Regions from separate parts of the Homo sapiens genome. Here region 1 is linked to region 2. Evidence: fine-mapped expression QTL. A gene starts in region 2. The other region holds a variant in brackets. All regions are shown on one strand. Distances are from middle to middle.

Region 1 (15,113 bases), 88 kb before region 2:
CGGAAGTGCGAGAAGGGGAAGAGGGGCTCGGGCAGCTCCCGAAAGAAGAGCTTCAGGGCTCCGGTGATAACGTGGACGTCCTCCCAGCGCCCGTCATCCAGGTCAAGGCGCTCATCTGTGGCGGAGGAAGGGAGGAGGACGGAAGGGAAATCAGTACCCCTTGCGCCTTCAGGCCCTGGGGCAGGGGTTGGGGACGGGCCTCACCGTGGTCCACCTTATAGCGTAGCTTCTGGATGGTGGCCAGGTTTCCACTGATGCGGTACAGCCCGTCGATGTCCAGCCCTGGGCCAGAGGGAGGCGCTGATCCCGGGTTCAGGGATGGGGATAGGGTGGGGCTACGGGTCCCTGCTATGACTCCCACTCGGGGCCTCCCGTACTTTCCCCCTGGACCCTGCGTCCATCCAGGGGTCTCCAGCCTGCGGTCCTGGCAGGAGGCCTGCGGGCACCCCAATGCCTGCCGCCCTCACCCCCGCAGCGCACGTACCGCGGGCCTCGACGGCGCGGATGCACTGCTGCACGAAGCGTGGCACCCGGCTCCTCTCGCGCTCACACAGCGCGGCCAGCGCGCAGCCGAACACCTGGTCTAGGGCAGAGGCTCATCAGCTCCTGCCCAGCCTGCGCCCCGTCCCGGTCCCGGGTCCCCGCCCCCCGCAGGCCTCGGGTACCTTTGATGTAGCCCTTCTCCCGCAGCGACTGCAGTGTGGGCCGCCTCTGGAGGAACTTGCGGAGCTTGTGCCGGACCTTGCTCAAGTCGCTCTCCAGGCCCACGGGGCCCAGGGCGGGCGCGGCTGCCGCGGGGAAAGGCAGGACTGAGTCAGGAGGCAGCGCCAGGGCAGGCCAGGCAGGCCCCAGCAACCGTCACTCCCCAGGAGAGGCCTCCTGGAGCCCCCACCCCATCCTGCCTTGCGCACACCTGCATTCGGTCGCGCGTCCTCCTCTTTCTCCTGCCAGCTTCCCAAGCGCTCGCTCGACCCGAAGTCCACTCTGCTGCTCTCGCTCTCCTCTGGGGGCAGCTCTGCGGACTGGATTCCCATAGCCTCAGAGAGGCGGGGCCTTGAGCCAGCTGCGGGTCCTTCCAGGATGGGGCAAGGGACCCGAAATGCACTCCCAACAGGCATGGCCTGGAGACCCTCAGCGAAGAGTCCTCTCTTCCCTTAACCAGGTTAACTCTCCTTACCTCCACCAGTGAGCCTGAGAACATTCACCTCCCTTAGCTGCATGGAGCCCTTAAGGTGCAGAGACAGTCATCCTGTTCTCCCACACCCCTTCCTATCCTGGGGACTCCTACCCACCTGGTGCCTTCTTTCTCTATTTTCCTCAGCTCCTCTAACTGGGTCAGCATTCCTCAATACGTGGCTCCCAGTTCTGAGCCTGCACCTCCAGCTGTGGCCGGAGCACTGCCAACAACTGCACCAATATCACCTCTCTGGCTCTGGATTCCTACCTCTATTAATACAGCCAAAAGCTTCACTCAATGTTGGCTCATAGGGAATTAAGGGTCAAAAAGCCCCAGGTCATTTCCAGGTCAGTAGTTGTCAGAGGGCCCCTGTCCTAGCTCTACTTATGCAATTGGTGTTTTCAGCCTTAAAAAAATGGTCGACTATTGAAATCAATCCTTTAAAATTTTATCTGCTAGTTTCAGCCTGCCATTGGTTGGCTTGCAGAGTATTTATTTGGCCTTCTGCCTCCCGTGAAATGGGAACTTCCTTTAGAATGTGCCCTACCCTCACCTGGAGAGTCTTCCTGCAGGGCCAACCCCAGGGCTGGATTCACAGACTTACAGAAGGCAGTTTCTTCAGCCGCCTACCCTGCCATCCTAGCCATTAGTGGGGACTGCATTTGCATTACCCACTGGTACCTTAGAGCTCCCTGAGCCTGAGCAGAGGGCCCCACTCATAATGGCCACCCCCTCCCCACTGCCCCTAGAGGCCCTGGGCTCTGCTTACCAGCTCCTGGATGCCCTGAGCAATGGCCTTATGCCAGGTGCTGATGATGGCCTCCGAGTCGTGCTGGATCAGGTACTCAGAGCCATCTCGGCTCCGTAGCTGGAGGGACACAAGTCAGTGGGTCATCTCTGGTACCCTGGGTCTGCCCTGGGGGTTGGCCCTAGTTGGGGGTAGGTACAGAGATAGAGGTGACCTGTCCCTGCCCCCAGGCACTCAGAGCTTAATGGAGCAAGGGCCTCACCCCAGGCTAAGTCTTGGATCTCTGCCTCACGTAAAGCAGTGGCTGACAGCATCTCTGTGTTACAGATGAGCAAACTGAGGCTCAGCAAGTTTTAGCTGCTTCCTCATGGGCACACAGCTAGTGAGTGATGAGCACAGAGCTGCATGGCTCAATTGTCTGGTACACTTTCCCTCCCCCATCCTGCCTCCCTGCAAGCCACAGAACATGGCAGGCCTCATGCAGAGCACTGGCCTGCAAACTAAGTGAAAGAAACTTCCTATGTGAGGCCAGGCACGATGGCTCATACCTGTAATCCCAGCACTTTGGGAGGCCGAGGCGGGCAGATCATGAGGTCAGGAGTTTGAGACCAGCCTGGCCAACATGGTGAAACCCCGTCTCTACTAAAAATACAAAAATTAGCCAGGCATGGTGGCGGGCTCCTGTAATCCCAGCTACTTGGGAAGCTGAGGCAGAAGAACTGCTTGAACCCGGGAAGCGGAGGTTACCGTGAGCCGAGATCATGCCACTGCACTTCACCCTGGGCGACAGAGCAAGACTCCGTCTCAAAAAAAAAAAAACAAAACAAAACCCAGAAACTTCCTATGTTGAGACCCCTGTCTACTAGAAGCAACAGTGAATATAGGGAGAGAGGATTTGAAAGCTGATCATGGCTGATCCCAGGGAAAGAAAGGTCTCCCCTTGCCCCTCCCCATACACACACTGAGGACTCAGAAACGTTGTCCCACCTTCTGCAGCCAGGAGTCCCCACCACCTCCCACACTCCAGCCTGGGCAACACATCTTCTGTTAGCCCGCTTCATCATGAAGCATAAATTAAACAGAACACCAGAGGGAAACTTGCCACCATAGGACTGACGCTCAAAGCCCTTTCTGAGTTGGATGGCAGCTTAGTTGGATTCCTTATCAGCCTCTGGCTCTGAGGACCCAGTGTTCCAGGTTAATGTGAATGTTTGGCGGCAACAGCTCACACCAACCCTGCCCTTTTGGTTCAGCGAGAGTCAGAGACAACAGAAACTGTCTCAGACCCCAGGACACAACTTCTAGAATTGGATTGGACTATCTTTGCTGTCCTTTTAAACTTATACTTGAAGACTATTTAAACTGCTTTTTAAAATGAAATGAGGCTGGGCGCAGTGGCTCATGCCTGTAATCCCAGCACTTTGGGAGGCTGAGGCGGGTGGATCATGAGGTCAGGAGATGGAGACCATTCTGGCTAACACAGTGAAACCCTGCCACTACTAAAAATGCAAAAAATTAGCTGGGCCTGGTGGCACGCACCTGTAGTCCCAGCTACTCGGGAGGCTGAGGCAGGAGAATCGCTTGAACCCGGGAGGCAGAGATTGCAGTGAGCCGAGATCGCACCACTGCACTCCAGCCAGGGCAACAGAGCAACACTCTGTCTCAAAGAAAAGAAAAGAAAAGAAAAGAAAAGAAAATGGCATATCTCATCCCCTAGCCCTCCCCTGCAAAGGACAGAGAACCTTCAAGAGGCAGATAACACAGCCTCACTCTAATCAAAGCAGACAAGAGCCCTGCTCAAGATTATCCCAGAGAATGGCTTGACAACACTTCTAAAACAACAGCCATGATTTTTGGCAGCTCTCTCAAAACATAATCAGTTCATATTTGCAAGTTTCATATAGAGGGCAAAGCTGTATCATTACATAGCAATGTATTTCACAAAATATTCACCCCCAGCCAGGCACAACGGCTCATGCCCATAATCCTAGTGCTTTGGAAGGGCAAGGTGGGAGGAGTCCTTGAGACCAGGAGTTCAATCCTGGGCAATATAGTGAGACCCTATATCTAGAAAAATTTTTACAAATTAGCCAGACATGCTAGTGTGCACCTGTACTTCCAGCTACTGGGGAGGCTGAAGTGACAGCATCACTTCAGTCCAGGAGTTGGAAGCTGCAGTGAGCTACGATCAAGCCACTGCACTCCAGCCTGGGCAACACAGTAAGACCCTATCTCTAAGAACAAACAAATAAACAAAACATTTATCCTGCTGACCGCACAGGCAAATGCTAGCAGCTTTTGGCGGACTGTTGCTGAAGTTTTCTGTAACTCGGGGTGACTAGAAAGACCTGCTGTGAAAATTTCCTGGGCCCAACAAAGCCATCCATCCTCAATGATATAAAATTTGGGGCTGTCTCTTGAGGAAAACCCTGGAGCTGCCTACAGGCCGCCCTGCATGGAGGGAGGATGGCCAGCAGTCAACCAGGAGGCAGGGGCTTGTGATTTCCATTCAGGCCTGCCCACCTTCCCACTGGCCTGAGCAGCACCTGCCTTCCAGTCCTTGCCAGCAAAGACAACTCAAAAAGCCCTATTCTGAAACTTTCATCAAAAGTCCATCAGTGATGATCTTCATTGAGAACTGTTTGAAGGATATACCTATCCCTCAAAGTCAGGGGAGAAACATGACTAGCACAGGTGATGTCTCAGACCGGGCATGGTGGCTCACACCTGTAATCCCAGCACTTTGGGAGGCCAAGGCAGGTAAATCACCTGAGGCCAGTAGATTGAGACCATCCTGGCCAACATGGTAAAACCCTGTCTTTACTAAATACAAAAAAATTAGCCGGGTATGGTGGCAGGCGCCTGTAGTCCCAGCTACTCGGGACGCTGAGGCAGGAGACTCACTTGAATCCGAGAGGCAGAGGTTGCAGTGAGCCAAGATTGCACCACTGCACTTCAGCCTGGGCAACAGAGTGAGACTCTGGATAATAATCATAATCATAATCATAATCATAATCATAATAGTGATGTCTCTCCTCAATTTAACACCATAGCAGATATTGTTAGTTGATCACAGAACTCTATCCTGCCAAGCCCAGAGAAGCCTTCAGAATTCTTCTCAAGAAGGCTCCAGGCTAGGCACAGTGGCTCACACCTGTAATCTCAACCCTTTGGGAGGCCAAGGCTGGAGGATCACTTGAGGCCATGAGTTTGAGACCTGCCTGGGCAACATAGTGAGCCCCCATCTCTATAAAAACTAAAATTAGCCAGATGTGATGGAACGCGCCTGTAGTCCTAGCTACTCGGAAGCCTTAGGTGGGAAGATCGCTTGAGCCCAGGGGCTTGTGGTTTCAGTGAGCTCTGACCGTGCCACTGCACTTCAGCCTGGGCAACAGAGCAAGACCTTGTCTCTAAAAACAGAAACAAAAAATAAAAACAAAAACAAAACCCCACAAGACTCCAGACCTACTCATCAGAGTAGCTCATGAGATGAAACCAGTTTTCCAACTTTGCTTTATAGATATCCTGGCTCTAGAACTGAATGGAGCTTGGTGAATAATCAGGAAACTACACTCTCAGGTTCCTTGCAGAACTGTTTTTTCTGAGCTTAGACATGAGGTCATGCTCTTGGCCTTCATCATAATGATGCTACCTGAAGCAGTCCCGGATCCTGAATTAAACCTTCCTGGAGCTGTTTTGCAGGGTACCTGGCATGTGCTTCTAGATCCCATGTTCATGGAGCTACATACAAGAAATTTAAGAGTGAAGGGTTAGGAAAAAGCTTTGATTCCCTCAACATCTGGGTGGGTTTTATTATTTGTTCAACAACAAAGAGACATGCACCTGATAGCCCTTCTCTTTTCACCTCACCTAGCAGGAAAGTCGGAGCTAAATTTTCTTCAGTAACCACCACCTTAGCACCCATACATCATCTGCCCCCTAATTCCTCTCCATCTTGAGTCCCATCTCTTACTTGTTTTTCATGGTCCTGGCTTTTCAGTTAATTTGACAGTTCACCACGTGTGTTTCTGTTGTGATCTGCCTCAAACCTTCTAGGTACTGAGGTCAGGGTAAGAGTAGTTTAAAAACAAGACAACACATGGACAGTGAAGGGTGTGGCATTGGGAGTACCCTTTCTGGGTCTTCTCTCCCTTCCTGCGGGGGTAGCATGGTAGTCTTCTCCACTGCCCCAGTTTATTCACTGGGGATGCGGTCCAGTCGGAAATGGGGCTCTGGCTCAGGGGCAGGGAAAGGGACCTGGGGAGAAAGAGGTTTCCCAACCAGGCCTGTCACAGTAAGCAGCCAGGGACAGGGAGCCTCCTGTCTCTCTCAGGCTGGGACGAGGGCTGCCATTCTAGTCATGAGAATTTCCTCTCCCAGAGGCCCTACTCCTCACCACCCTCCAGGGCAAGGATTATTATTAACTCAGCTCCTGGAGA[G/A]GGAACTGCAGAATATGTGATGTTAGAAACAAAGGACAGGTCCCCTGGGGCGGGGGTGCAGCGTTGGCCTTGAGCCCTGAGAATGGTAGCCCCAATTCTTCCCAGGTCCTCCTTCTTGGGGCTTGCCTACAGTAAGGGTCCCACAGCACTGCCAACAACTGCACCAATATCACCTCTCTGGCTCTGGGTTCCTACCTCTATTAATACAGCCAAAAGCTGCACTCAGTGTTGGCTCATAGGGAATTAAGGGTCAAAAACCCCCAGGTCATTTCCAGGTCAATAGTTGTCAGAGAGCTGGCAGGCATCACTAAGCCCCTTCCCTCCTTCTCCCCAACCCCGCCACTCACCTCCAGCACATTCTTCCTACTGGATTTGTCTTTGGGGGCCCAGGAGAGAGTGGCCCCCCTCAGCTCCACTGTGTACTCAGGGGTGGAAAACTTGGAAGGCTGCCTCTGTGGGAGAGGGAGGAAGGTCACAGGGAGCCCTCAGTTCAGATGTGTCTGCTGTGGCACTCTGACCCTAGGAATAGGATGGGGTCACTGGCATGGCCAGGAAACAACTCTGGGGAAAAGTGCCCCAAGTGTTCCTGAACCCAGAGACCCTGATGCTTCTTAACCATGGAGCCTGCTGGCTGGCATGTCCACTGCTGCCCACCCACCCAGGGGAGGACAGGAAAGGAGTGCAGTCTGCATCCCTGCAAGCAGGTGTGCCCACCCCCAGCCTCCCTGCCCTCCAGGCTGGAGCTGGCCACCCTCAAGACTGTTCCCCATCTCCAGTGGGCTAAAACTACTTGTCTTGGAGTGAATCTGCCAGTATCACCCCCTTCCTGCCAAGGCCCAGCTCCTCTGACACTCATGGACCACTCTCTCAGACCTGGTCATCTCCAAGCCAGATTAGATAGAGCAGATGGGGGCTGGGCACAGTGGCTCACGCCTGTAATCTCAGCACTTGAGGAGGTCGAGGTGGGCGGATCACCTGAGGTCAAGAGTCCAAGACCAGTCTGGCCAACATAGTAAAACCCTATCTCTACTAAAAACACAAAAATTAGCCGCACATGGTGGCACATGCCTGTAGTCCTAGCTACTCGAGAGGCTGAGGCAGGAGCACTCAGGAGGGAGAGGTTGCAGTGAGCCGAGATTACACCACTACACTCCAGCCTGGGTGACAGAGCGAGACTCCGTCTCAAAAAAAATAAAAATAAAAATAAAAAAAAGCAGATGGGATGGTCCCTGCCCTGAGGGCCTGGCCTTACCAGGCCGCCTGCAGCCGAGGTCTTTGAGTCCTTGAAGAATGTCAGGACGCCACCCTCCAGCACAGTCCAGGAGGCACTCCAGTGCTTCTTCCTAGGTGGGGGTGGGGAAGTGGGGGTGGCAGGACTTAGATTTGGTCCTGGGCTGAGGGCCCCTCCTACCCCAGGAACAAGTCAGAGCTTAGGAACACAGGCTAGGGCACCCCATTATGAGGGCTGGAATCCCGACTCTAACACCTAGCAGCCGAGGGACCTTGAGCAAGTCACTTTATCTCACAGTGTCTCAGGGTCCACAGAGGACCACTCACGAAGTTGTTGTGAGGATTAATAAGAGCCTGGCATACAGGAAGTGCTCAGTGAACATCGTCACCAAGGCCCACCCTGCCCCGGCCTGAGTGTAGATGGGCTCTCACCGGAGCCGCTTTCCCTTGTCTGCCGTCTTGGTGCGATGGAGCACCCCTGCCTTGTCCAAGGTCTTGGTCTAAGAGAGAGAAGAGAGAGCAGGCGCAAGAGTGTGTAGTTAAGGGGTGAGCTATGGGGAGTAGAGGCTGGTCACCTGCTCAGCTGCCACTCTCTATGGTCTGGGCCCGTGTCTCCACTGAACCCTCCTCGCCAGCACCACCACCTGGCTGGGGGTAGGGGGTGATGCCTACCCTCACAGCAGCTGTGGCAGGAGAGACTTCCTCCCAGCTCCCAACCTCATCCAGCTCTGCTGGGACCTATGGGGGAAGACAGATAGATCCCACCAAGTCCCTCCTCCCAGGAACTCCAGAAGCCCCCCACTGCTTCTGTGGTGGTCCTGCCAGGACCTCAATGGCTCCTCCCCTACCTTCTCCTCTGGAGGGCTGGCCTGGGCTGGGGTGTCACCATCCTGGCTGGATTTATGGATGCTTCGAGGGGCAGGGACAGGGACCTGGGGAGAAAGACACAGTCGTATATGATCTCTTCCTCTCTCCCCAACACCCCCCTTTCCCCAGGTTGTTACCTGGGGCAGCTCCCATCGAACAGAGGAGTCCTCTGGATTGTAGAAGTATGGCTTCCCGTGGGGGTCCTCCAGCCTCACCCACTGTGGGGAGAGGAATGGTCAGGGCCTCCAGCCCAGCTTATGAGAGGGGAGGAAAAGTTTCCCTCTAACCAGGTTCCAAGACAGCACCAGGGAGTCTGGAGGGGCAGGTGCAGGTGACTGTGTTTGGCTGGTTTAGGCTCTGTGTGGGAGCTGCGGTTTAGAGCACTGAGGCGACCTATTAGTGAGGAAGGTTGTGGGGAGGACTCTGAGGCTGTCCGGGTCCATCTGCCCCCTGCCCCTACCTGCTCCTGAGTGAAGTGGTTGGTGTAGAGCATCTGCTTGTCCTGGCTGACATGACAAGACCAGCCGGGGGGTGTGGTCAAGGGAGAGGTAGGGCCGGGCTCACCGAAAGAGCCCACGGGAGAATAGTCCTCCTCGGGGTAACTGGTCAGCGACTCGGGGTAGTCCGTCTCGGGAGTGGGGGGCTGCGGGGAACAGAAGGTGGAGTCAGAGGCTCTGAGTGCCAGTACTGCCTGCTGGCCCTGCCGTTTTGGACCAGGCCCACCCCCTTGCCTTCTGGTCCCTGAGGCTGTGGGAGCAGGAGGCGGGGTCAGAAGCGCTCAGAGGTAGCTCCGCACCTCACCCTCTGGTCCCTGGGGCTGTGGGAGCAGAAGGCGTCAGAGGTAGCCCCGCCCACTCCAGCCCTGCCCCTCACCTTCTGGTCCCTGGGTCTGCAGAAACAGGAGGCGGGGTCAGAAGCGCTTAGAGGTAGCCCCACCCATCCTGCCCCACCCCTCACCCTCTGGTCCTTAGGTCTGTGGGAGCAGGAGGTGGGGTCAAAGGCGCTCAGAGGTAGCCCCGCCCACTCCAGCCCCGCCCTTCACCCTGGGGTCCCTGGGTCTGTGGGAGCAGGAGAAGGGGTCAAAGGCTCTCAGAGGTAGCCCCGCCCACCCATCACCACCCCCTCACCCGTGTGTCCCTGGGCCTCTGGGAGCAGGAGGCGGGATCAGAGGCGCTCAGAGGTAGAACCGCCCACTCTGGCCCTGCCCCTCACCCGCGGGTCCCCTGGGCTGCCAGGGCTCAGGCCCGGCTGCATCTCCAACTCCTCCTCGGGCTCGTTCTCGGCCTCGTCCTCCCAGGCCGTCTCGCCCGTCAGCGGGTTGTAGAAGAACACCCTGCGGCTCTCCTCATCCCAGTACTGGCCCCACTCGGTCTCAAGGCTCACGTGGCTGTCCACCGAGGCAGGGGAGGTGGCTGGGCTGGCGGCACCCTCGGCAGCCTCAAAGGGCGACTCCCAGGTGGTAACTCCCGTGTCTGGGTTGTAGTAGTAGGGGCGCCCGGTGCCCGCGTCCGTGTGCGTCTCCCACACCGGGCTGGGAAGGGGGGCTGCAGCGGCGCCCGGTGAAGTGGCCCGGGGCTGCCTCTCTATGTTCGCGTACACGGGCTCCGGTGGGTCGTCCACCTGCGGGAGGAGAAAGGAGGAATTTTGTGTTTTCAGAAACCTTCCAAAATGGTAACAGAGGTCCCCTCTGGGCAGTGCGATTATAGGGGTTTATTTGTTTTCGCTTTATTTTCTTTAAACTTTTCTGCAGCCTCAAAATTTTGTACAACAAAGCATTTTAAAAATCACGTAAGTTCTTCTGCTCACTGTGACACCATCACTAAGCCGTAAACTCCTTGAAAGGGGAAGTGCCTGTTAGAAGTGGCCTCTTCTTGAGCTTTAGCCCCTTGGGCGACCTTCAGGAAGTCACACTACCTCTCTGCCTCAGTTTCCTGGGTGTAAAATGTCTGCTCTGTCCATTCCGGAAACTGTAGTGAAGAGTGAATGAGGAAATGCTCTTGAAAGTACTTTGTAAAGTATTTAGTGCCCCAGACGGGTGGGTCAATTACATTAATTATATTTATCAATAATAATAAAACATCGATAACCCAGTTCTCACAACTGTGCACTCACAGAGGCAAGTCAGAGGTTGGGCAGGAACTGAGAAGTGGTCTGGGGCGTGCCCCTGTTTATGGTGCCCATTCAGGGCCCTGCTGCATTCTTTTTTTTGAGATGGGGTCTAGCTCTGTCACCCAGGCTGGAGTGCAGTGGCGCAATCTTGGCTCACTGCAACCACCACCTCCTGGATTCAAGCTGCATTCTTACAGCTCCACTGAGAGCTCCCACCCCACCCCACTCTCAGCCCAGAAAGCTCTGGGATTGGAATCAGCACCCTGTCTGGATTTGGGGACTGAACTTTCCAAGGTGAAGTTTGCAGGTGTCAGAACCAATTCCAGACAAGAGAGGGAGACAGGACAGCCAGATGGGCTGGAGAATGGAGGGGCAAAGAGAGGTGAATTGTTTTACTCCACCCCAAAGGAGAGTGAGGGCAGCTGGGGGTTCAATCACATAGAACATAAACCTAGCCATGCGTAAGCCTCCCGGAACAGAGGCTCTCCTGATTCACACCTCAGAGCTCCCTGCTGGCTGCAGGGCAAAGTCTAAGCCCTTAACCAGGCACAAGAGACCGTCCCTCACCGGCCTGTGCTTCCACTATTATTTCCTGCCACTCCTTGCCCCTTGCCTTGAACTTTAAGCTCCAGTAGCACCAGTTGCTAGAGGTCCCCACCGTCCCTGCTGTGTTTCCTCCAGGCCTAGGCTCATCTGCAGCCTGCCCAGGCCCATCTCCACCCCTTTTTTTGCCTGGCTGACTCCAATTCCTTCTTCAGGATTCAGCTGAGGTGCCAGGTTCCAGCCTTTTCCTGAGATTCCCCCCATCCCCGTGCCCCCACATTCAGCCCAGCACCCTTGGCCCCACAGAGGGACAGATGACTACATTCTCAAACCCCAGGCAGCAGCATGGCATACGGAGATTACTACTATTTTCTTTTCTTTTCTTTTTCTTTTTCTTTTTTTTCTTTTTTTTTTTTTGAGATGGAGTCTCGCTCTGTCGTCCAGACTGGAGTGGAATGGTGTGATCTCGGCTCACTGCAACCTCCGCCTCCTGGGTTCAAGCGATTCTCATGCCTCAGCCTCCCAAGTAGCTGGCATTGCAGGCACGCACCACCACGCCTGGCTAATTTTTGTATTTTAGTAGAGATGGGGTTTTGCCCTGTTGGCCAGGCTGGTCTTGAACTCCTGACCTCAGGTGATCCGCCCACCAGGGCCTCCCAAAGTGCTGGGATTACAGGTGTGAGCCACCGCACCTGGCCAATTACTACTATTTTCTAAGCATACACAATACTTCAGGGGAAAGCAGATTTCCACATTTCAATTTTGTGTTTTCGGAAACTTTCCAAAATGCTAACAGAGGTCCCTTCTGAGCACTGTGATTATAGGGGTTTGTTTTTGTTTTGTTTTCTTTGAACTTTCCTGCAGCCTCAAAATTTTGTACTACAAAACTTTTAAAAATTCACAGAAGTTCCTCTGCTGACTGTGACACCATCACTAAGCTGTAAACTCCTCGAAAGAGGAAGCACCTGTTCAGGGTGGTCTCTCCCTGAGCCTTAGGCAGATGCCAAAAAAAAAAAAAAATTCATTTTTCACCAAACTGATGCCAAAAAAGCAAACCAAACCAAAACAATGAAAAGAAGAAGGAAAAGAAGAACATTTGTTTACCCAACAAAGATTCACCTGCTCTGTGCCAGGCACTGTTTGAGGCACGGGGAATACAGCAGGGAAGAAAGGGACACAAATCCTTCCCTGGCAGAGCTGGCACTCAAGTGCACCTGTGTGTAAATGGTGGGGGTGATGAGTAAATGGACAGCATGTCAGTGCTGATCACTGCTAAGCAAGAAATGAAAACACTGTCAATGAAGAGGATGTTACAGTTTTAGACAGGGTGCCAGTCCCCAGGCGCCTGGGGGACAGGGAGAGCTGGGGATCCCAGCCCATCAGTTCTTCTCTCCTCTCCCCTTCCTCCAGGCTGCTGTGTGGCTGAGAGGGGACCCTCCACCCCACTTGTCCTTTCTCTACCCCCACCATAGCTCTGATGTGGCATCCTGTAGTCCAACCACAACAGGCCTCTCACCGGCCCCCAACAGAAAAGGCATCCTCCCACCTCGAAGCGTTTGCTCCAGCCATTCCCTCAGCCTGGAATTCCCTTCTCTGGTTCTCTGCCTACCCAAATCCTGCTCTCTCACGGTGCTCAGCTGACAAGCCTCTCCAGGGAGAGGTCAAACCTGCTGGCACTCTGCTCACTGCTCTGTTGAGGCCCAATGGCGTTCTGCCTTGGTGGGCAGCCAGTTGTCCAACCATCTGCCCACCTCCTCTGCCCCAAAAGGCAGGATTTTCTTGAGAGCAAGACTAAGGATAATGTAGCTGATTCCATTTGCCCCCCAGCAGCTGGGCCAATGCCCTGAAGCACATAGCAGGTCTGCCACAAACTGCTTGTGTACACAAGTCTAACCCATGCCCAGTTTCAGCAACAAACATGCCTGACATGACAGAAGAGCCTGGAATGAGCTTGAGCTTTCTGAGGAGGAGGGTCGGAGCCACAGAAACCAGGAGATTCCTGGGGAGGGCAGGATGGAAGCAGCGGGGAGAGGAAGGCAGAGGAACCAGACACACCTCCCATCCTCCCAGCTGAACGCACTGGGGCAGGAGTTGAAAGGCTCCACCAGGGGTGGATGAGCTGATAAGGAACAGGCTCTTTGGAGCAGGAATTTCTACTTGGCAGGCTGTGGGCCATGGCTCTGGGTCCACGAGGAGTCCCAGGCCAGTGAGGCTGATGGGGTCCTCACACGAAGGAATGTCCCCAGCAGGTACAGAGGAGATTTCGGAGGTAGAAGTTTAGGTCCCCAGCATGACAGGGCTGTCACAAGGAAGAGAAGATGGGGTATCATGCTGCAGGGGCACAGCAGCATTCCTCTGAAGGAAGCATTCTGAGGACTAGGGCTGCCAGAGACACAGGCTGCTTCTGGAGGTAGTGAGGGGCCCTCACTGGAGGTGACTGAGCAGAGTCTACTCCCTGTTAGGGAAGCCATAGCCCTGTGGTGGGTGTTGAACTGCAGTGTCCTTCAGGCCCCTTCAAACTCTGGAACTCTCGGCAGACCCTGCACAGTGCTGAGATAGAGATGCTCTCCTCTCCTGGCAGAGCCTCAGCTGGGTTCTAACCAGCTCCTGGGGCCAGGTGCAGTCACGCCCTCCACATCCTCTGGCCTTCAAGGAGTTACAGGCGCCTGCCACCCCTACCCTCCTCCTTGCTCCTGTTCATGGAGGCCCAGACAAGACCCAGATGCAGCTCATAAGCAGGGGCCTGACTACGGGATCAATGGCTCTTGGGTCGCATCCTAGAGACAAGAAGTGGCCTTCCGACCTCAGGCCAGAGGAGGAGCCAAGAGGGACCTGGCTCTCAGGCTCCAGGCTGCCCAGCCCCCTGGTACTGCCTTACAGTGGTTCACCCCTTATCTCCAGTTCCCTCCCCTGTCCACAAGCAGGTGGCAGCCCTGCCACTCTTGCCCCAAGCTGACCACCTCTTGGATGGGCAGGGCCTCCGAGAAGGAAAGAGAAAAGGAAGTATGAGCCCCAACTTCCAAGAGGCTCCCTGCTCTAAGCCCCAGCTCACCCAGCTCCTAACAGGGCTTGTGGTAGAGGCCCACCGGGCACCCCTTGACCCCAGCATCCCCTACCTGTGCCGGCAAGGCTCGACTCTGCCTCCTGGTCACTTTGGCGATTATGTCCACCATCCTGGCCCCTCTGAACTGCCGGGACAGAGCCCTGGGAAGGTTTTGGGGGTAGAGCCCAGGGGCACTACCCCAGTGCTGGCACAGGGCAACAGGGAAACAAGAAGTTGCCGAGATGGCGGGAGGCTGAGACTCCAGCCCATTTCCTGTCAGGGCTGCGGAAGTGCTGCCTGAGTTGGGGCGGGTGGGGTGGAGGGGCCTCAGGTTGAGGGTATTTTTATGCTTCTAGAAACACTGCTGGCTGCCCCACTCAGTGCTCTAATGACCAGTGAGCCGCATCCGAGGCCCAGACATAGCCATGGTGTGGGCTGCACAGAGGAAGATCACGGCCAGACCCAGCCACAGCATGAACTGCACAGAGAGAATCACGGCTGAGCCTGTGGGGGAGGGGCGCGCTTGCACAGACAGGGTGGGCAGAGGGGGCGCTGAGTGCTGGGGGCCTGGGCTGGCCTGGAGTGGCTCCTGGGGCGGAAACAGGACAATGAGTGGTTGTCCACTCCCTCTAGGCCCAGGGAGGGTGTAATGGGAAAGAGGAAGCTTGTGGGGGGGAGGGGAAGAGTTCCCAAAGAGGAAGGGGTCTGGGCAGATGTGATATCACAGGGAGCTGGCATCTGGACTGTGCCAGCCCCGAGGAGGACAGGAAGGATTCTGACCACATCACTATCTGCCCGCCTGACCACCTGGGTCTGTCTCCTCCAGACTCGGTCACCAAGATGCATATGCCCTCCCACGCCTGCATGCCCACATGTGCCCACTCTCACTTGCGTGTCCACATACGTGTACAAGTATGCCCGTGCCTGTCCCCTCCTCTCTAAGGACCCAGAGAAGAG
Region 2 (15,113 bases):
TTAGGCAAAGTTTAACTTTTTCAGCCAATTGCCAATCAGGAAAATCTTTTAATCCACCTTACCCTGTCCCCACCAATGTATACCTTACATATATCAATTTATGTCTTTGCCTGTAACTTCTGCCTGTAACTTGGATAAAAATCAAGCTGTACCCCAATCACCTTGGGCACATGTTCTCAGGACCTCCCAGGACTATGTCACAGGTCATGGCCCTCACATTTGGCTCAGAATAAACCTCTTCGAATATTTAACAGAGTTTGGCTTTTTCATCAACAGTGCCATCACCTCAGAGCTAGGATTCCAGGGGTGGTCTGGGAAGACCCTTTCGCTGGGGGCCGGGAACAGGGGGTGCAGGGGAACATTAAGGCCAGTGTGGCAGGAAAGGTTTCCTGGACAGCCCTGGAGCAGCATGAGGTTTGGAAAGCAGACAGGCAGGCTGGCCCTAAATGGTGGAAGGTGCTCTGATTGGATCTCTGGCTTCTGGGGATAGCAGAGGGCAAACAGGACACAGGGAGTCAGGACCCAGAGCCAACCTCCCTAAGTCAGGTCCCTCAGGAGGAAGCAGGCATGTATGGAGGATGGTTCCTGCAGACCCAGTAACAGGCCGGGTGCTGCAGATGGCCAGAAGAGCCCTCAGTCCTGACTACAGCCCCATCTGACTGCCTCACCCTTCACCATAGTCTGCTCCCAGCTACCCAGGGATTCTCAGAGCCCTCCTCTGGAGACCAGTTCCACATTCTGGCCACGGGGTGACAGGAAAAGGGGGTTGTATGCTGCAGTGACTCTGCATCTAGGGTCACTTCCAGAAACAGGCCTGGTCTTGAGGTCAGGCTCCATCAAGGCTACCCTTTTGCAGCTCAGCAGGCCACGTCCAGCTTCTCTGGCTCCGAAACCCTGGGCTCCAATCCCAGTCCACAATTTCCAGTGGCCTGAGGCCCTCAGGCCCACCCTTCTAGAGAGAGCCCGAAGCCCCAAAGTTGCCCTTCCCTTAACCAGCTACAGGGCCGGGACCCTAAGGACTTAGACCCAATAATTTGAATTATAGCCCAGGCCCATTAAGACCTCATTAACTAATTAGCTGAGAGTGATAGAGTATTCACAGAGTATTCACTGGGAGGAGCAGGCCATTGGTAAGTGAGTGCTCTGGCCAAGTAACAGTATGCTAAGAAGACAAAATAGGCCAGGTGCCGTGGCCCACACCTGTAATCCCAGCACTTTGGGAGGCCGAGGCAGGAGGATCACTTGAGGTCAGGAGTTTGAGACCAGCCTGGCCAACATGGTGAAACCCTATCTCTAATTAAAAAAAAAAACAAAAATTAGCCAGGCATGGTGGCCCATGCCTGTAATACCAGCTACTGGTATTACCAGCTACCATACCGGCTGAGGCAGGAGAACCACTTGAACCCAGGAGGCGGAGGTTGCAGTGAGTCGAGATCATGCCACTGCACTCCAGCCGGGGCAGCAAAGCAAGAATAAATAAATAAATAAATAATTTATGGCATGGCGCCGTGGCTCACGCCTGTAATCCCAGCACTTTGGGAGGCCGAGGCCGGCGGATCACGAGGTCAGGAGATCGAGACCATCCTGGCTAACACGGTGAAACCCCGTCTCTACTAAAAATACAAAAAAATTAGCCGGGTGCAGTGGTGAGCGCCTGTAGTCCCAGCTACTCGGGAGGCTGAGGCAGGAGAATGGCGTGAACCTGGGAGGCGGAGCTTGCAGTGAGCCGAGATCCCGCCACTGCACTCCAGCCTAGGCGACAGAGAGAGACTCCGTCTCAAAAAAAAAAAGATAAAATAAAAAAATAATAATAATAATAATAATTTATGTCTCAAATAAATAAATAAATAATAAACTGAAGCTGGCTGGGCGCGGTGGCTCACGCCTGTAATCCCAGCACTTTGGGAGGCCGAGGCGGGTGGATCACGAGGTCAGGAGATCGAGACCATCCTGGCTAACACGGTGAAACCCCATCTCTACTAAAAATACAAAAAATTAGCCGGGCGGGCACCTGTAGTCCCAGCTACTTGGGAGGCTGAGGCAGGAGAATGGCGTGGACCCAGGAGGTGGAGCTTGCAGTGAGCCAAGATTGTGCCACTGCACCCCAGCTTGGGCAACAGAGCGAGACTCCATCTCAAAAAAAAAAATTAATAATAATAAACTGAAGCTAAGAGAGACAGGGCCAGACAAGAGAAGGGTCACTTGGCCTAAAACAGAGTCAGAAATGCCACAAAATGACTGACAAGAGCTCAGAGAAATCCAGCAGAAGAGCCACTTGAAAATTCACAAGACAGGACTGAGCCTCTGGGGTTCCAGCCACAATGCAGGACACCTCTGTTTGTAGGCAGCCATAGCACCCCACCTATCTGTATCTGTTCCATCATGCTCAGGGAGGCAGGGCTCAGATGGTCAGTGACATAAGAACTCACGGCGGGAATCAGAAGGAGGCTTTGTGTCTCTTGACTGTGGGGACAGTACTGCGTCACCCACCCTGGTGGCCCAGATTCTGAATCTACCATCCTATGGAACTGGTTCCACTTTCTGTCCTCAAAACGCTCTTCATTGACACAAAGAACCAAAGTGAAGAGAGGTGTGGCTTCAAGGAGACCTACCTGAAGGGAGTGAGGCAAAGCTGGGCAACAGTACCAAAGGGCTCTTGAACATGACGGGTGAAATCTTAGCAGGGGAAAGGTGACTGGTGCCATTTAGGAAGCCCCAAACCACACCAAGTCTACTGCCACCCTGTGTATTCATTCGCCTTCACATAGCTCTCCAGAGTGCAGAAAGCAAGCTTCTCTGATGTCCCTCTCTAACCTCATTTAATTCTCACAGCAATCCCGTGAGAGAGTGATTATCCCTGTTTTACAGAGGACAAAACTGAGGCTCAGTAGCAATGGGTCTCGGGTAAGGGACAGAACTCTCTGGTTTCTTCATCCCAACTCCTGCATCTTTCCCTGGACCAAAAGGCCTCAGGTCTTTGGCTCAAATTCAGACAAACTATTACTTCTTCTTTAGAGGTACTCGGAAGCTCCATTTCATCACAGAAGGTCTGAAACCAACAAGAAACAGTTCTGCCAATCAGGTTTATAGCCCCAACCAGCTGAGACCAGGTCCTACCAATGCTCCTAAAGTCTCAGAGCTATACTTTCTTAAATGTTCCAACATAGTTAGGAAGGAACAGTTCCGGTTGGTTTCCTGCATTATACTGCCTGGCCTTCTCTATATGTCCAATTTCACTTCCTCCAGAGATCAAGGAAGCAAAAAAAGAGAATGACTTGGATGAGACTTACGTTAAAAGAAGAAAGGGATAACCTGGTTCCACCACTCTCAAAACACTCCACCATCAGTGAACAGCAACCTCTTCTCTTGAGGGACTCCTCAGCCACTCCCCACGGCCTTCTCTCCACTGCCTGAATTGTGTAACTGGCTGTTCAGAGCCACAGCCTGGCTTTAAGCCATCCAACTGCTGTACCAATTGATGAGTCATGTTTTTTCAATTGGAAAAGAATGACAAAGTTATCCTCTGATTCAGAAAGGCAGCTGATCTTTCAGGCATGTGAGTGCTGACTGAGGAAACTGCACCTCTGTCCACCTGAGGAAAGCTGGATTTCTGTGATGGGTGGAGTGGTGGGGGTTGGAGCTTTGAAGCAATTAAATACCAGATGAAGGGTGAGAAACTTTTAGCTTGTGATTCCCAGACTCAGGGCTAGTGGATGAGGGCAGAATTGTGGAGTCAGTGAACACTAGCTATCTTTCTTTCCTCCCTCCTTCCTTCCATCCAGTATCACCCAGCTTTCCTGTATTCTTGTCCCATATCCCAGAGGATTCTAACAAGGACCAAACTCTGAATGAATGAAAACAGGACCGTTGCCTGACCCATTCACCATTGTATTTCTAGTACCTGGAACAGTGTTTGTCACACACTGGTGCTCAAAAAATAAGCTGTTGAATGAATTGATTAATAAAATAAAAACAAGGCACGGGGTAAGTACCTCCACTTCACACACTGTGGGAAGTTGGGGTATACAACTCTTAAGTGCTGGGGCAACTGTGGAGCTCCTGTCATTAAGCCAAGCTGCCAATAAGGCTGAAAACAACTTAAATATACTGCATATTAATGGGAGGACATTGAAGGTAAACAGCATTCACTTTTCAAAGGAATACGACTATAAGTGGCAAGCAGAGACAGTGTTCTTTGGGGCTCTTTAAAACTGCAATCAGCCAGGTGCGGCGGCTCACGCCCGTAATCCCAGCACTTTGGGAGGCCGAGGTGGGTGGATCACCTGAGGTCGGGAGTTGGAGACCAGCCTGATCAACACAGAGAAACCCCCATCTCTACTAAAAATACAAAACTAGCCGGGCATGGTGGTGTATGCCTGTAATCCCAGCTACTCGGGAGGCTGAGGCAGGAGAATCGCTTGAACCTGGGAGGCAGAGGTTGCGGTGAGCCGAGATCATGCCACTGCACTCCAGGCTGGGGAACAAGAGTAAACTCCGTCGAAAAAAAGAAAGAAAGAAAGAAAAAAGCTGCAATCAAATGGCCCACCCATCTGATGCCGGGTCCTCAGGATTCAGAGAAAATGTGTACCAAAAAGCCCCCAGGAAACTATAAATGCTGAGCATGGGACTTGGGTGCCTCTGGAATGTCCTTCTGCCTCAGCTACTCTGAGATAACATGGTTCCCTGTGTTCATGGAACCCAGATGGCCAAAAGTCAATGATCCAGCACTTAAAAGAAAAGAAAGCGATTCAAGAGCCTCTGTACCCACCTAGGCCTCAGCCTCCCCAGGACCTACTCACCTATACTCTTCACAACAGGTAACGTTGCCTCTGGCACCCATCATATCCCCTGAATTCAGCATCAGGACTGATCTGCCATCAGCTCTGGCAGGGAGAGGCCCTTACAAGTGCCAAGAAAAGGAACACGAACAATATTCTGTGACCACAGCCAACACCACACAGAACTTCCCAGAAGCTCTCCAGGGCGAGAACACCAACCAGAAGGAAGTGACAGCTTCCATCATTCTGTGCTAAGTGAGCTGAGTGAGTGGCCGTCTCTCACCTTCCAGATATTTGAATGATACCTACCATTCCAGCAGCCAGCACAAGTCATTTAATATGAATGCCAAAAACACAATCCCTGAGGACAGGTGCAGGAGACCAGATGCCAGGAAAAACCCCGGCCCCACCCAAGAGTTGGGGAGAGCCCACTGCTCCTCCACCCTTATTTACCACCTGAGCCCCTGCACCCGCCAATCATGCTGCTCAGTCTGTAACTGCGGGTCTGAGTGAGCACCTACATTTGGCTGTTGAGGGGCAGCTGGTGGAGTTGGCAGGCGACTCTGCACTAAGTTCTCAGGTTGAATGGGAGTTGGGTCGAGGGAAGCAATGGACGCAGAGTTGGGGTGAAGAGTTGCGGTGGGTCAGCGGGGGTGAAAGGACATGGAGATGTCATTTTTAACAAGATTGGGTGAGGGTGGTAGGAAAGGAGGCAGCAAGAGTTCGGGACAGTTTGGCAAAGACTTAGGGATGGGCTGTCCTCAGTACGGCAGGAGACGCAAAGGAAGGTATACAGTGGCTAGGAGACTAAGGACGAGAAGACACAGTTAAGACTTGGAATAAGGCTGAGATCGGAGTTATCCAGAAGAAAGCGGTGAGCTCAACAGGGCACCTACTTTGGGGGTGGGTCTTAGATGAGAGGGCGGAGGTAGAATGTTTGGGATGAGCAGATCTTGGGGAGCTAGACGGGGGATGGGGGTGACTGGGATAAGAAAGCTGAGCCAGAAAAGGGGAAACCTGAATGGTGGGTCTCGGGGAGGTAAGCGCGGAGCATCGGGATTACCAGAGGGGTGGGGAGAGAGGATGAGGTGTGTCAGGGCGGGGCGAAGGGACGTGGCCGAGATCGGTGTTGGAACTGGGGTAAAGTGGGGTCACGAGTGAAGCTGCATTTAAGCAAGACCGCTGGTGAGGGGATGCGGGCGCGGGCTGGGGGCTGGACAGACGGAGGGGACGGGGCCACAGCGGCGGTGCAGGGGGAAGGCTGGGTCGGAGAGGAGCGGGCGCGGGCTGGACAGGGCTGAGGGCCCTGAAGCCGGGCAGTCTCAGGGTAACCAGGGGCTGGGAATCGCGGAGGGAGCGGGAGGCCCACCGCCCGTTCGCGCCTCGGCCCTCCCACCACTCCGCCGCCCTCCTCGCATCTTGACCCCCTAACTCACCAAGCGGAGCGAGGAGCGAGGCGAGGGGCGCTCCCGGCCGCGGCAGCCCCTCAGCCTCCGAGCCGACGATGCGGTCTCTCGGCCACTGACAACAGGAAGCGGCGCCCCGGCCCCTGACGCCATCACGTTGGCTCGGCGCTCCGGCCCTGCCCCGGCCCGCGGTGCCAATCGCGCAGCCCGAAGGAGCCTTGGGGCGGGGCCAGCTGCTCCCGGAAGTCCCTGGGAGCTGAGCCCCGGGGCAGATGCGAGGTCTGGGAGGCTGGGGAACTGGGGGCGCCTGCAGGGCGCAGAGAGGCGAAGGCACCGGTGTCAGGGAGAACGCATCCGTTACCGCCCGCCTCCCGCAGGTCTGCGTCAAACTAGATCCTGGCTTCTGGGTTCCTGACCTCGTTTGGCCTCAGAACCATCTGTGCAACATTGGGGCTGTCACTTCGCCTCCCTCAGCTGAAGAGTTCCCACTTGTGAGTGGGACTAATAACGCCTGCCCTATCTTTGCCTCTCCGAGGGCAGCAGTGCAGCCCGTGGGGCGGAGCCCGGGCCCAAATTGGAGCCTCCGCCTTGCGCTTTCAGGATAAACATAGCTGTTTTGACCACACTTTATCCCAAGGGAACGCCTTGAGGTCCCCTTGGGCACTCTCCCGTGTGTAACTCGCCCATTAGCACCGCCTGGCTTGAAGCTTAGGGGTCTGGTTATTCTCTTCTAGCCCGTGTAGAGGATTTCTTTCTTCCTTTCTGCTTTTTTTTTGAGACAGGGTCTCACTCTGTCGCCCAGACTGGAGTGCTGTGGCACGATCACGGCTCACCACAGCTTTGACCTCACGGACTAAGTGGTTCTCCCACCTCAGCCTCCAAGCAGCTGGGACTACAGGCGTGCACCACCACGCCCAGCTAATTTTTTCTTTTTTCTTTTTTTTTTTTTTTTTGCGACGGAGTCTGGCTCTGTCGCCCAGGCTGGAGTGCAATGGCGCGATCTCGGCTCACTGCAAGCTCCGCCTCCTGGATTGACGCCATTCTCCTGCCTCAGCCTCCCGAGTAGCTGGGACTACAGGAGCCCGCCACCACGCCCGGCTAATTTTTTTATGTTTTTAGTAGAGATGGGGTTTCACCGTGTTAGCCAGGATGGTCTCGATCTCCTGACCTGGTGATCCACCCGCCTCGGCCTCCCAAAGTGCTGGGATCACAGGCGTGAGCCACCGCGCCCGGCCAATCTTTTCATTTTTAAAAAAATTTGTTTATTTTGTAGAGACAGGGGTCTCACTGTGTTACCTAACCTGGTCTCCAACTCCTGGCCTCAGGCGATCCTCCTGACTCGGCCTCCCAAAGTGCTGGGATTACAGGCATGAACCACCACACCTGGCCTGTATATCTTCTTTCTAACGCAAAAGTGACATTTCTCTTTCAGATGAACTCGGAACAAAATGTCATAAGTGGTGGCCACAGGTAGTGAAGAGCAGGGCAGGGAGTGTTGGCAGGGACCCATGCTCTGGACACTTTATACTTGCAGGCTTTGGTCAATTGGGAGCCTAGGGCCTGAGTGTGGATGAGGAGAGGTACTGCTACATGCCAGTCCTAAGTGGGCACAGGGGTTGGCTGGGGAACGGGCCAGTTCTTGGAAGCAAGCTTCACTGCCCTCGGCCTGGGCGTCCTGTGCTCTTTTGGCTTCTCTGGGTAGGAAGGTGTCCCTCTTATCTCTGCAAAGTTCAGAGTCCCACTGTCTGCTTTCAAGTATAAAACCAGCACTTGGGGGTATGACCCTGGACTGTATGAGGGCCGCCCTTTCAGTAATTCTCTCTCCAGGAGTGAGAACCTCCCCTTCTCAATTTTAGACTAGATGGGTCTGAGTGTGTTTACTGCAGTTAATGGTTGAGCAGGAAGATTAGAAATAAGGACATAGAGACAAACTATTCTCTCGGTGTTAAACTCATTTTAAACAAAGTGGAAAGTAAGGGATTTAGTAGGGAAATCCTTTCACCTTGGCAAAACGATAGTATACAACTGGCACAGCATAATCCTTGGTGGCTTGGCACAAGCATTCCCTGTCCCCCATCAAGCACATAATGTCCCTCAGTAATTCCACTGCATTTTTGTGCAGCGGCTGTGTGCTGGAGCTGTGGGGAACCCCTCGGTAATCTCTTGTCTGCTTTTTAGGAGCCCCTATCTCCTGGTCTTCTCTTACTTCCCAAGCTACCCTGCTTCTTTGAAAAGTCTTCAGGCTTGCCTACCTCTTCTCAGCTTGCTCTGCATGCCTTGGGGAAGCTGCATAAAGCATGGATCATGAAGGAGGGGGCGCAGAGGAGAGGGAAATGCATGTTTGCACAAATGGACCCTGAGCCCACCAGGCAGGCTCCAGATGGGGGGGAAAAAAAAAAAAAAAACCCTTACATTATCACGTGACTTGCGCAAGAAAAAAGGTACCTGCAAAGGGCCAAGGGACCAGAGAGGAGAACTTGAGAGGTATTCTGGAGGAGGCGACTTTTGATATGAGCTTTCTAGGTGAGTAAAGGGTATTGCAGCTGAAGGGACTGGCTGGTAAGTGGCCAGCACATAGGAATACAGGCTGAGCTCAGGGAAGGGTGCACCCAGAGGTGGGGAGGAAGGTGGGAAGTGAAAAAGGAGGCTGGGCACGGTGGGTCATGCCTGTAATCCCAGCACTTTGGGTGGCCGAAGCTGGTGGATCACTTGAGGTCAGGAGTTCGAGACCTGCCTGGCCAACATGGTGAAAGCCCATCTCTACTAAAAATACAAAAATTAGCCAGGTGTGGTGGTGTGTGTCTGTAGTCCCAGCTACTAAGGAGGCTGAGGTATGAGAATTGCTTGAACCCGGGAGGCGGAGATTGCAGTGAGCCAAGATAATGCCACTGCACTACAGCCTGGGCGACAGAGTGAGATCCTGTCTCAAAAAAAATTTTTTTTAAATAATAATAAAAATAAATAAAAATAAAAGGAAGTGAAAAAGGAAAGGGTAAGGGGAGAGGGCCAGAATGGAAGGGGAGCTGAAGACTGAGCAAGGCAAAGTTGGAGGCCAGTGCAGAAAGGGCTCAAACCATTTGCAAGGATGGTTCACATCCCACTGGTCTGTCAGCTTGGATTTAAAGCACTACCCAGCGTTATTCAAAGCCACACAGGAGAACTGTAGGCATCAGAATGCCCTGGGGACAGGTCCAAAATGCAGATTCCTAAGCCCCACACTAACCCTAAAGAGTCACTCTAGGATGAGGTCCAAGAATTTGGGCTTCACCCCACCTCTCCTGTCCCCTGCCCTCACCACTGAGGACCTAAAGGATAATGAAAGGGGGAAATCTGTGCCCTAAATAATCCCTTTTGGCAGTTACTTTCTGTTTTCAAAGTTCAAGTCTGTCCTCCGGGACTAACCTAGGAGATGAGGGATAAGGGAATTAACATTTATGGAAAATGGAAGAACATACATAGGCACCTGTGTTCACCTAATATTCCTTACCAGCCACCTGAAAGGTGGGTGCTGCCATTATCTCTATTGTATGGATGAGAAAATAGGCTTAAAAGAGGTTAAGTGGCCAGGTGCGGTGGCTCATGCCTGTAATCCCAGCACTTTGGGAGGCCGAGGTGGGTGGATCATGAGATCAAGAGATCCAGACCATCCTGGCCAACATGGTGAAACCCTGTCTCTACTAAAATACAAAGAATTAGCTGGGCGTGGTAGCACGCATCTGTAGTCCCAGCTACTTGGGAGGCTGAAGCAGGAGAATCGCTTGAACCCAGGAGGCAGAGGTTGCAGTGAACCGAGATCACGCCACTGCACTCCAGCCTGGTGACAGAGCGAGACTTCATCTCTTAAAAAAAAAAAAAAAAGAGGTTAAGTAACTTGCGGGGGGGCCACAGCCACAGAAGTAGTAAGTGCTAGAAGTAGGATTCTTACCTAGTTCTTTCTGATTCTAGTTTCAGCTTTGTTCAGTGGATTTTAGAGCCAGGGCTGTTTAGGTTTGAATCTCATCTCTATCCCATATTGTTTGCTGGGACTTCCTTAAAACAGTGTGGGGCCCAGGGCAACCCAATGAGTATGGGGCTAAGATAGCTGACAGCTGCCACCGAGTCAGCATTTTTCACAGGCCCGTTGAGATCGCACTGAAGACAGAAATTTCTAAATTGAATTTTATTGATGTTCAGGAAAGAGAAGTAAGTCACAACGCCCCTTCGCCCTCAGCCCCAAGCAGAGAGCCCAGAGTGTGTGACCTCAGGCAAGTGCCAAAACCTCTCTGAGCCTCAGTTCCTCATTGTAAATAGGGGCTAATGTCAGTTGATGTGAGGAGTAAATATCATGATATCCTGGCTGGGCACAGTGGCTCACGCCTGTAATCCCATAACTTTGGGAGGCTGAGGTGGGTGGATTACTTGAGGCCAGGAGTTCGAAACCAGCCTGGCCAACATGGTGAAACCCCATCTCTACCAAAGATACAAAAATTAGCCAGGCATGGTGGTTCATGCCTGTAGTCCCAGGTACTTGTGAGGCTGAGGCACAAGAATCGCTTGAACCTGGGAGGCTGAGGTTGCAGTGAGCTGAGATTGCGCCACTGCACTGCAGCCTACATGACAGAGTGAGACTCTGTTCCAAAACAACAACAACAAAAAAAAAAAAAAAAAAAGGAAAAGAAAAAAAGAAAAGAAAAAGATGATATCCTTAATGCAAGTTCTGGCCTGTAGTAAGTGCTCAAAGATGAACAGTTGTTACTATTCTAGTTGTGGCTAATTTTCACCCTGCCAATTGGGCAGGTCCTTGCCTTCCATTGCTCTTGTAAGCACTTGAATGAGAGCCTTTCTTGTCTGAACCCCAGATATATTCTTGCTTGGCATCTGATTGAAATAATAAAACTAGTGTTAATGCACCCTCCTCTCTGGACACTGTAATCACTGGTGTGCTCTTCAGTTCTGTTGTAGGAAGCGGTTTCTTTCCACTCTCTCTTTTTTAAAAAATTGATTAAAAAGTGTTGTTATACACACGGTTTACAATTCAATAAAATGAAACGGAATGGGGATGAAACATAACGAACAACAGCAGTTCATTGTCCCTATTGTTCCCACCCTTCTGGGGAGCAGGCTTTCAGCAGAATCTTCTGGTGCTTCTCCCCACATCTCCTGCACGTCTCATTGTTTGTATTTTATTATTTTTTTGAGACACAGTCTCACTCTGTCACCCAGGCTGGAGTGCAGTGGTGCCATCTTGGCTCACTGCAACCTCCCCCTCCTGGGTTCAAGCAATGCTCCTGCCTCAGCCTCCCTACTAGCTGGGATTACAGGCACCTGCCACCATGCCCAGCTAATTTGATATTTTTAGTAGACGCGGGGTTTCACCATGTTGTCAAGGCTGATCTCAAACTCCTGACCTCACGTGATCCACCTGCCTTGGCCTCCCAAAGTGCTGGGATTACAGGCGTGAGCCACCGCGCCCAGCTGTCTCATAGTTTTAGACACTGTCTGTTGCCTTCCTGGTAAACCTGGCAAGGACTTAGCTCTTTTACACCCCAGCCCTGTCCATTCTTGAGGTTTGGGTTTGCCACAATTTGTAGAAAATGAACAGTGTTTACAGAATTGTGACTATATAAATATTATTCACCACAGAGCTTAATAATGTGCTGTGAGGTCAGGCATGGTGGCTCACGCCTGTAATCCCAGCACTTCGGGAGGCCAAGGTGGGCGGATCACCTGAGGTCGGGAGTTCAAGACCAACCTGGCCAACATGGAGAAACCCCATCTCTACTAAAAATACAAAAATTAGCCGGTGTGGTGGTGCCCCCTGTAGTCTCAGCTACTTGGGAGGCTGAGGCAGAGAATCACTGGAACCTGGGAGGTGGAGGTTGCAGTGAGCCGAGATCATGCCACTGCACTCCAGCCTGGGCAACAGAGTGAGACTCTATCTCAAAATATAATAAAATAAAAATAAAATACACTCTGATGATGGCTGCTTCCCCCAAGGGTGCCTCAAGCTCTCTCCTTTTCTTTCAGTGCCATCTGCCATTATCGTGCCATCGTTCTCTTCCAGTGCTCTGGTGGAGCAGGTGGCGCCCAGGCCCACAGTGCCCTCTCCAAGTTCTGTCCTCCATGTGCTCAAGTTATCCCCTAAACTTGTCACATGTGGTCATCCTGGAACTTTGCTTAACTGCTTCCTGGGTTGGGGCCTTTATTTCCTGGCTCCCTTCTCTTCTTGCTTAATTTCCCCTCCCTTTGCTGCAGCACATACTCAGTTAAGAATCCCTTTCTAACATTAAAAAAAGAAAAAGAGAATAGTTCTTGGATCTCCTCATGATAGAAATTATATCTTTAGGCCGGGTGTGGTGGCTCACGTGTGTAATCCCAGCAGTTTGGGAGGCCGAGGCAGGTGGATCACTTGAGCTCAGGAGTTCAAAACCAGCGTGAGCAACATGGTAAAACCCTATCTCTACAAAAAGTACAAAAATTAGCCAGGTGTGGTTGCATGTACCTGCAATCCCAGCTACTCAGGAAGCTGAGGGAGGAGAATCTCTTGAACCCAGGAGGTGGAGGTTGCAATGAGCTCTGATCATGCCACTGCACTCCAGCCTGGGCGACAGAGTGAGACCCTGTCTCAAAAAAAACAAAATAAAGTTGTATCTTTAATATCCATTAACTGAAAAATAAAAATAAAAATAAGGACCAAAAATTACTATGAGGACACACATGCTTTTAAATGAATTTGTGTGTTATTAACCACAGTAACATCTATGAACTTGTGAAAAACTGTTACTGGTTTAGGCTTAAGGGTTTGCCCAGTCTAGCTTCAATGTTCAATGGGTGGGCACGGTGGCTCACACTTTGGGAGGTGGCCAAGGCAGGCAGATCGCTTAGTCCAGGAGTTGGAGACCAGCCTGAGCCACATAGTGAAACCCTATCTCTACAAAAAATTTAAAAATTAGCTGTGCGCGGTCACGCGCACCTGTAGTCCCAGATATTGGAGGGCAGTGGGGGTTGGCGCTGAGGTGGGAGGATCACTTGAGGCCAGAAGGTCAAGGCTGCAGTGAGCCGAGGCTGAGTCACTGCACTCCAGCCTGGGTGGCACAGCAAAACTCTGTCAAAAAAACAAAACAAAACAAAACAGACAAACAAGAACCAAAGTTGGATGCAGTGGCTCATATCTGTAATCCCAACAACTCGGAAGGCTCAGGCAGGAGGATTGCTTGAGGCCAGGAGTTCAAGGCCAGCCTGGGCAACATGCTGAGACCCTTGCCTCTGAAAAAATTAAATATTAATAAAAACAAACCCTAGTAGCTTCAGTCTTTGATTCTCCATCCCTCATTTCATCCCTTTGTCTTCTGGTAATAGAATTTCCTTCTTGTTTTTCTTTTGGGATGAGCCACCTTCGCTCCCTGGGATTCTGCTGGGATTGAGTTACCGCCTTCCGGGCTCAAGCGATCCTCCCACCTCAGCCTCCCAAGTCGCTAAGACCATAGGTGCATGCCACCATGCCTGGCTAATGTTTTGTATTTTCTGTAGAGCCGGCGTTTTGCCCTGTTGCCCAGGAGTTTTTCCTTTAATGTTCTCCTGCTACTTACTAATTCACTTTGTCACCCTGTGAGCTCATAAGAGCAGAGAGATAGCAACAGGAGCTAAAAAAACTCTAAGCTGTGAAAAAATATTAAATATGAAATCATGATAGCTATTAGCTTAATTTGTTTTAGGCAAATTGCAAAGTAATTTTTTGGGAATCAGTGTCCCACTGCAGTGATTCCATATGGGGATTCCTAATTCCCAGTATGTTTTTAAAATAATTTGTAAACACCTAGTACAAACGCATGATATGAAATTCAAGAGGTACAAAAGGGCATACAGCCCTGCACTCTCCCAGTTTCCCTCCCCGAAGGCAACCGCCATTACCAGTTTCTCGTGTGTGCTTCCAGAGGTATTCTTGTCCAACAGAACTTCAGTGATGAAAACAGTTGCCTGTGCTGCCAGTTTGGAAGCCATTAGCCACACGGGGCAGTTGAGCACTTGATATGTGGCTAGTGTGTCTTAGCAGCTGACTTTAAAAAAAATTTTTTTTTTTTTAAAGACTCAGCGTCTTGCTCTGTTTACCAGACTGGACTGCAGTGAGTGTGAACATGGCCTCAAACTCCTATTTATTTATTTTTTGAGACAGGGCCTCACTCTGTTGTCCAGGCTGGAGTGCAGTGGTGCAGTCATAGGTCACTGCAACCTTGACCTCCTGGGCTCAAGAAATCCTCCCACCTCAGCCTCCTAAGTTGCTGGGACTACAGATGAATGCCACCATGTTTGGCTGATTTTTACTATTTTAAATTTTTTGCCTGGGCGCAGTGGCTCATGCCTGTAATCTCAGCACTTTGGGAGGCTGAGGCGGGCAGATCACCTGAGGTCAGGAGTTCGAGACCAGCCTGGCCAACATGGCGAAACCTTGTCTCTACCAAAAATACAAAAATTTGCTGGGTATGGTGGTGCGTGCCTGTAGTCCCAGCTACTTGGAGGCTGAGGCACGATAATCGCTTGAACCCAGGAGACAGATGTTGTAATAAGCTGAGACTGCGCCACTGCACTGCAGCCTGGGTGACAGAGTGAGACCCGTCTCAAAAAAAATAAAAATAAATAAATTTTTTGTAGAAAAGGGGCTTCACTATGTTGCCCAGGGTGTTCTTGAACTATTGGCCTCAAGCTATCCTCCCACTTGGCCTCCCAAAGTGCTAGGATTACAGGCATGAGCCACTGTGGCCAACCTAAGTTTATATGTAAATAGCCATATGTGGCTAGTGGCTACTGTATCAGACCTCACAGTTCTGTACAGATAACGCACAGTGCACAGTAGCATACTATACACGCCCTACTAAATCTTGCTTTGTTCCCTTAACAGCACCTATGCATCTTGGAGATAGATTGTCCCAGTCTGCCTCATTTTTAAAAACTG

The links. PIP is the estimated chance that this variant, and not a neighbour inherited with it, causes the effect.
Region 1: its variant is fine-mapped to the expression of PLEKHM1 in whole blood (INTERVAL, PIP 0.99).

What each region holds. Positions count from the first base shown.
Region 1 is chr17:45,396,003-45,411,115 of GRCh38, forward strand. It overlaps ARHGAP27 (Rho GTPase activating protein 27), which reads right to left. Exons shown (of 20, transcript NM_001282290.2): 5 at 9,674-10,081; 6 at 8,922-9,104; 7 at 8,599-8,679; 8 at 8,443-8,526; 9 at 8,267-8,332; 10 at 8,027-8,094; 11 at 7,617-7,707; 12 at 6,712-6,816; 13 at 1,947-2,045; 14 at 914-1,022; 15 at 666-788; 16 at 485-583; 17 at 205-282; 18 at 1-115. Among named protein-coding and RNA genes, the nearest start is that of ARHGAP27, 29 kb to the right of the region's middle. The variant G/A (reference allele first, on the strand shown) is at 6,365.
Region 2 is chr17:45,484,438-45,499,550 of GRCh38, forward strand. PLEKHM1 (pleckstrin homology and RUN domain containing M1) reads right to left here and starts at 6,284. Exons shown (of 12, transcript NM_014798.3): 1 at 6,215-6,284. It overlaps LOC105369225 (a long non-coding RNA gene), which reads left to right and starts at 6,435. Exons shown (of 5, transcript XR_002958152.2): 1 at 6,435-15,113.